Homo sapiens: one gene and its partner. The protein of the gene in region 1 purifies or fractionates together with the protein of each later gene. This does not show direct contact. Each region holds a gene or a part of one and is shown on either strand. Other genes may lie near its edges. The genes, in order: ALDH18A1 and CIAO2A.

Region 1 (3,821 bases):
ACATTAAATTACTTTTGCCTTTTTTTTTTTTTTTGAGACATGGTCTTGCTCTGTTGCCCAGACTGGAATTCAGTGGCACAATCTTGGCTCTCGGCTCACTGCAGCCTCAGCCTCCTAGGCTCAAGCAGTCCACCCACCTCAGCTTTCCTAGTAGTTGGGACTACAGGTGTGTGCCTCCAGACCTGACTAACTTTTGTGGATTTTTTGTTTTTTGTAGAGACAGGGTTTCACCATGTTGCCCAGGCTGCTCTCAAACTCCTGAGCTCAGGCAATCTGCCTGCCTCAGCCTCCCAAAGTGCTGGGAATGTGCCACCACGCCCTGCCTTTTGCCTATTCTTGAAATTTATATAAATGAGATCAAACAAAACACACGTTTATGTTGCCTGTCATTTGTTCGTTATGTCTGTGGCATTCATTCCCATTGTTGCATCTAGCAGTAGTTTTCTCATTTAATTGCTGGGTAGTGTTCCATTTACCTGCATATACTACAGTTCATCTTTTCTTCTCTTGATGAATATTTAGATTGTTTCCAGTTTTGGGCTATGTGGAATAAAGTTGCTGTGAACATTCTGGCACACATATATATTTGTTATAAAAGTAATATGACCATGTGGAGAAAAATTAAAAATCAAGAGAAAACAAAATGCCCATAATCTCAGTATCCTCTCACAGGCTCTTTAAGTCATTCTAATCCACATCCCAGGGTAGAAGTTGCCATCAGAAGTCATGAGAACCATGACTCCCTAGCAAGACCAACCCAACATTTCCTCAATGCTGTGAATAGAAAACCAACAGAGAAGCCACTCCCTTTTGTGATCTTCATGGCCTGGAGTAGTGTACTGCATTTAACCTCCATAGATACCCCTTTGTGCTGCTTCTGGCATTTTAAAAATTGTCTGCCCTGTATTATGGCTAGCAGTACCCTAGTGCTGCCTTCCCTACTTGATGCTGAGCTCTTTGACGGCATGCAGTGTCCTGCGTGATATGTGATGTGGAGCACAGCACCGAGTATATAGTGTTTGATAAGCATTTGCTGGACAACTTTTTGATTCCCATGATCGGGAACTTAATTTTGTTTTTAGAATAAGTTTTCACAGTGTCTCACTTAGTTCTCAGAGTGTACAGATGTTTATCTGTAAAAGGGAAGCTGCTGTTTTTATATTTTGTGTGGTCAGATGTCATCTTTATCTTTTTCTTCTTTCCTTCTAAAGGTGAATACCAGAGAAGAAGTTGAAGATCTTTGCCGCCTAGACAAAATGATAGATCTGATCATTCCACGTGGCTCTTCCCAGCTGGTCAGAGACATCCAGAAAGCTGCTAAGGGGATTCCAGTGATGGGGCACAGCGAAGGGATCTGTCACATGTATGTGGATTCCGAGGCCAGTGTTGATAAGGTCACCAGGCTAGGTGAGCTGGATGGGGTCTTCTCTTTCACAACGGAGAAATATTACATCCTCTGCAGCTCTGGATCATGTCAATGGAAACAATTCTTTGCTCATCTTCTTTCAGTCAGAGACTCTAAATGTGAATATCCAGCTGCCTGTAATGCTTTGGAGACTTTGTTAATCCACCGGGATCTGCTCAGGACACCATTATTTGACCAGATCATTGATATGCTGAGAGTGGAACAGGTAAGAGTTCCATAGGACTAGTACATTACTTCCTGTCTTAGAAGCCTGTGGAATTAGACCAGGCACAGCCATACCATATAAGGCAGTTTAAGAAACAATATTTTTTAATATCTTCTGTGTACAAAGTTCCATGCTAAGTAAAGTGTGAGTAAAACACAACCCCTGCCCTCTAGTAGTCGAACCAAACCAATACACAAATAGCTTTATTACAAAGTGGAATGTGTTGTGTGCTAAAGAGGGTTCAAAGGTAAGACAGACCACATGGCACTATGCTGACTGAACTGTTTCTGGCAACCTTATATATGCAAGGTGTTCCCAAGCATATATTATTTTTTGGATTTGATTTGAAAAGATGGTGCAGAAACGTTTCAAACCAAAAACTTATGTACATTCACTGCCTCCCCCCAGTGTCTTTGGTTACCAATATTAGTGTACTTAATGCAGTGATATTTGGGATTCAGTAATTTGTAGAATGTCTCCCTGGATTATGTTTTTACTATATTGTTAAGGTTGTAAACAAACCAAAAGCCAGTAAGTTTCAAATATAAAGTTGTGCTGTGTCCTAAATTCATGCCTGCAAGAAAATATAATAGATGCCCTCAAGGCAAAAATGGACAATCTGTTAAACTCTCTGCATGGATGCATTTTAAGCTTTAATTTCTGATGTCATAGTACACTTTCAGAGTTATATAAACCAGCATGGCAGTAGAGAAGGTGCTTGTTGGCCTTGGTTGCTTTGACTCTGAACATATGTCTCTTCCCTTCCATCCTTTGACTGGAAAGGAAGGCTCCAGTTAGCTTATAAATGTGGCATGGTCCCAGTGAGAACTGGAAAGAATTGTTTTAAAAATGAAACTGTACTCCATGGATTACAAGGAAGTTAGATCACATGGTCATTCATGTTCGGGGACCTTACTTTACTTTGGTAAGGAAGCCTGTTGATTGGGCACCTGTGTTTGCCAAGCACCACAGTGAACTGGATTAGACAGGAGGAAAGCTCTCCTTTAGCCAGGACTAAATCCCTCCCCAGACCTAATTTGAACACACAAGTGGTATCCTCAGTCATTAAAATGAGGATGGCCTTGAAATTCCAAATCAAAATGAGTCACTGTGTGTACTTCATACAGCACTTTTGGATGGCAGAAAGTAAAGCTAGAAGGATGACTTGCACAGGGATGGGGTTCCAGTCCCCAAGGAACACAGAAGAAGTGAGATCCCAGATAAGAAACAATGGCAGGGCCTCGGGAATCATGAGGATAAGGCAGACACCACTTATAACTTGAGCCAAGGCAAAAGCTTGATCCCAAAGAATCAAGGCATGAACCCTGTCCTGGGGATGTCTCAGAAAACAAGGTTTAAGTGGGATCCAGCTTGTGATTGGGATCCTCGGTGACCAGCCTCAGAATCCTTAAATTCCTCTAACCAGCAGCAGGATTAGAGCCAGAGCCTGGGGCTGAGCTGAACCTAGAGGTGGGGCCAGACTGACGCAGTTGGAAATCAAATGAGTAGCCACAGTTTCAGGTGCTGAAAGCACCTGACCAAGTACTGCTTACCTCTAAAGCAAACCTGGGACTTCGCTAGGGTACAGGGAGTAGCAATGTATATGTGGCACCTCCCTTTTTCCACACGAGTCTAGTGCCTAGGTACCATATGCAGGAACTGGGATCTTTATTGTCAAGTATTCATTTTAGGAAAATGCCAGAAGTCAAGCCCTTGTGTTGATAACCCACTAAACGCCTTGCACATTCTTTTTTATTCTTTTTTTTTTCTTTGAGACGGAGTCTTGCTCTGTGCCCCAGGCTGGAGTGCAGTGGCACAATCTTGGCTCACTGCAACCTCTGCCTTCCAGGTTCAAGCAGTTCTCCTCCTGCTTGAACCTCCCAAGTAGCTGAGATTACAGGCACCTGCCACCATGCCCTGCTAATTTTTTTAGTAAAGACGGGGTTTCACCATGTTGGCCAGGTTGGTTTTTGAACTCCTGACCTCAAGTTATCCACCCGTCTCAGCCTCCCAAAGTACTGGGATTACAGGCGTGAGCCACCATGCCCGGCCCACCTTGCACATCCTTAACGTTCAAGGCTTCCTGCTTCAATCCCTGTTCCAACTGTCTTGAGGGCCCATTGCTGGCAAGTGGCCAGTCAGATCATGCTGGAGGGAGGAAAGTAGGACTAGTTCAGTTGTTGAGGCTAC
Region 2 (3,821 bases), on another chromosome or scaffold:
TGATCCACCCGCCTCGGCCTCTCAAAGTGCTGGGATTACAGGCATGAGCCACTGTGCCTGGCCTTGTTTTTGTTTTTGAGACAAAGTCTTGCCCTGTCGCCAGGCTGGAGTGCAGTGGTGCAATCTCGGCTCACTGCAACCTCCGCCTCCAGGGTTCAAGCGATTCTCGTGCTTCAGCCTCCCAGGCAGTTTGGATTATAGGCATGTACCACCATTCCCGGCTAATTTTTTTTTATTTTTAGTAGAGACAGGGTTTCACCATGTTGGCCAGGCTGGTCTTGAACTCTTGGCCTCAAGTGATCCACTGCCTCGGCCTCCCAAAGTGCTGGGATTATAGGCATGAGCCACTGCACCCTGCTGTCATGGTGGTTGTGATTTTTATTTCTCTGATGGCTAATAATGTTGAGAACCTTTTCATGTGGTTTTTGGCCATTTGTGTATCTTTGGAGAGCTGTCTATTCAGATCCTTTGCCCATTTTAAAATAAGGATGTCTTTTTATTATTGAATTATAAGAGTTCTTTATATAGTCTAAATACAAGTCCCTTGTCAGATATGATTGGCAAATATGTTCTCCCATTCTGTGTGTTGTCTTTTCACTTTCTTGATGGTGTCCTTTACAGTACAAAAGTTTTAAATTTTCATAAAGTCTAATTTGTTTTTAATTTTTTAACTTGTGCTTTTGGTGTGATAATCTGAGGAAGATGTTTTTAACCCTACTATTGAGCAAGAATATGGATATCACAGTTAATTCATAGTAATTGGTTATCGCTCGTGAATGATTCGGCCTTGTCTCTTACTGCCTCTTGTAATTGCTGGGCAATTATGCCTTCTCTACCTGGCTGCTACCTAGCCTTTACACAGAGTACCCTGTCTACTTGGAGTTCCCTTCCTCCCATCTCATATGTTCAAATCCTACACATCTTTTTTGTTTGCTGTTGAGACAGGGTCTTGCTCTGTCTCCCAGGCTGGAGTGCAGTGGTGTGATCACTGCTTACTGCAGCCTCTATCTCCGAGGCTCAGCCTCCCAAGTAGCTAGGACTACAGGCGTGCACTGCCATGCCTGGCTAATTTTTTCTTAATTTTTGGTAGAGATGAGGTCTCTCTTTGTTGCCCAAGCTAGTCTCAAACTCCTGGGCTCAAGTGATCATCTTGCCTTGGCCTCTCAAAGTGTTGGGATTATAGGCATGAACCACTGGGCCTGGCCAAATCCTACCCACGTTTTAAGGCCCAGTGAAATACTATTTTATTTTCCATGATATCAGTCCTGATTTCTTTCTTCTTTTTAAGATGAATTTTTATTTATCTTTTAAATTTTTTTTTTTATTTTTTGTATTCACCTTTCCATACTACTAGTCCTGATTTCTGTAACTAAAGCTATTTCTTTTTTTGAATTGCCGTGGCTCTTTCTTTTTGTTTTTTTTAAAGACAGGGTCTCACCCTGTTGCCCAAGCTGGAATATAGTGGTATGATTACAGCTCACTGAACCTTTGATCTCCCAGGCTCAAGTGAGCCTCCCTCCTTACCCTCCCAAGTAGCTGGAACCACAGGTATATGCCACCATGCCCAGCTAATTTTATTTTTTGTAGTGACAGAGTCTCACTATGTTGCCCAAGCTGTTCGTGAACTCCTGGGCTCAAGCAGTCCTCCCGCCTTGGTTTCCCAAAGTGTTTCGGATTACAGGCGTGAGCCACTGCACCCAGCCCCGTGGCTCTTTCTTTGTCTTCTGATGTAGAGAGTGTCCTTTTCTAACTTGTGTTCTGTTTGTTTTTCATCTTCCCTCCTGGACTGTCAACTTCTCTCTCTTTTCTTTTTTTTTTTTTTTTGTTTGCGATGGAATCTCGCTCTGTCGCCCAGGCTGGAGGGCAGTGGTGCGATCTCGGCCCAGTGCAGCCTCTGACTCCTGGGTTCAAGCGATTATCCTGCCTCAGCCTCCCAAATAGCTGGGATTACAGGCGCATACCACCACACCCAGCTAAATTTTTGTATTTTTAGTAGAGACAGGGTTTTGCCATGTTGGCCAGTTTGGTCTTGAACTCCTGACTTCAGGTGATACACCCGCCTTAGCCTCCCAAAGTGCTGGGATCACAGGCATGAGCCACCATGCCTGACCAGCTAGCTGTCAGCTTCTTGAAGTCAAGATTCATATATGATACATCTCTGTGTTCCTGCTATGATCTTATACATATTTGGAGCTCAATAAATACGTCTTAAATTGAGTAAATTAATAAATTATTATACTAGTGGTTTATGATGCCCTGTAAATTTTATTTTTCATTTTTAACTGTTTTAATTACAATGTTTAACTTTTTATTTGAAATGAAAATAATGAAAGAAAAGAAATAAAATAGTGAAGAATAGTACAAAGAAATTCCATATATCCTTCACCCAGATTCAGATTCACTAATTGTTAACATTTTGCCACATTTGGTTTATCATTAATTTCTCTCTATATATGTACACACACATACACATATTTTCTGGAAATGTTTGAGTGCATTTGTAATGCCCCCTTACTCTAAATACTATAGGATGTATTTCCTGAAAACAAGGACATTCTCTTACATTACCACAGTATAAATTTCTAAACCAGGACATTGATACAGTACTGTCATCTCATCTACAGCACGTATTCCAATGGGTAACATCCTTCATGGCGGTCCCTCCTCCTGGCTCTGCTCCTCTCCCCCATCATACATTGCATTAGTTGCCATGTCTCTTTAGTCTCATTTAATTTAGAGTAGTTCCTTAGCCTTTATTTCATGATCTTGATATTTTTGAAGAATGTAAACCAGATATTTTATAGATTGTCCCTCAAATTGAGTTTTCTGATGTTTCCTGGTTAGATTCAGTTTGTGCATTTTTGGCAAGAATACTGAATAAATGTGTTCTCATTGCATCACATCAGAGGCCTATAAATTCAGTTTGTCCCATTATTGGTAACAGCTCCCCTCATCAATTGGTTACCCTGAAGTATAGTTCATATAGGAATAGCTGCATAAATGCTGCCTTTTCCCCTTTATCACTTTTAGAATAATGAGTCCTGTGTAATTTTAAACTGAAGTAAGTCAGTATAGAGTGATTCTATACCTGTTGCTTTGAGGTCTAGAATAAGAGTGTTTTGCTACTAGGAGAAAGGTGTTTTGTTTTGTTTTGTTTTGTTTTGTTGAGACGGAGTCTCGCTCTGTCACCCAGGCTGGAGTGCAGTGGCGCAGTCTCAGCTCACTGTAACCTCCACCTCCCGGGTTCAAGGGATTCTCCTGCCTCAGCCTCCTGAGTAGCTGGTAATACACGCCCGGCTAATTTTTTGTATTTTTAGTAGAGTTGGGGTTTTACTGTGTTAGCCAGGATGGTCTCGATCTCCTGACCTCGTGATCCGCCTGCCTCGGCCTCCCAAATTGCTGGGATTACAGGCATGAGCCACCACGCCCGGCTTGTTTTGTTTTTTAAAAAAAATTGGGGCCAGGTGCAGTGGCTCACGCCTATAATCTCTGTACTTTGGGAGGCCTAGATGGGCGGATCACTTAACCTCAGGAATTCAAGACCAGCTTGGGCAATATGGCGATACGCGGTCTCTACAAAAAAATAGAGACGAGGGAGGAGAGGGGTGGGAGTGTGGGAGCTGAGGTGGGAGGATCACCTGAGCCCAGGAAGTCGAGGCTGTAGTGAGACATGATCGCGCCACTGCACTCCAGCCTAGGCGACAGAGTAAGACCTGTCTCAAAAAAAAAAAAAAAAAAAAGATTGGACTAGATGACCTTTAAGGTCCCTTTTAACTATAATAAGTTATGATTTTTCTCACTCATGAGAAATGTTTATCTCC

Evidence for each region.
Region 2: the proteins of ALDH18A1 (region 1) and CIAO2A purify together in Homo sapiens (co-immunoprecipitation; one large-scale study listed by IntAct). This does not show direct contact.

The regions. Positions count from the first base shown.
Region 1 is NC_000010.11:95,611,552-95,615,372, reverse strand, and holds part of ALDH18A1 (delta-1-pyrroline-5-carboxylate synthase), read left to right. Parts: intron 1-1,211; coding exon 1,212-1,407; intron 1,408-1,509; coding exon 1,510-1,631; intron 1,632-3,821. UniProt on the Homo sapiens protein: Bifunctional enzyme that converts glutamate to glutamate 5-semialdehyde, an intermediate in the biosynthesis of proline, ornithine and arginine.
Region 2 is NC_000015.10:64,076,643-64,080,463, reverse strand, and holds part of CIAO2A (cytosolic iron-sulfur assembly component 2A), read left to right. Parts: intron 1-3,821. UniProt on the Homo sapiens protein: Component of the cytosolic iron-sulfur protein assembly (CIA) complex, a multiprotein complex that mediates the incorporation of iron-sulfur cluster into extramitochondrial Fe/S proteins.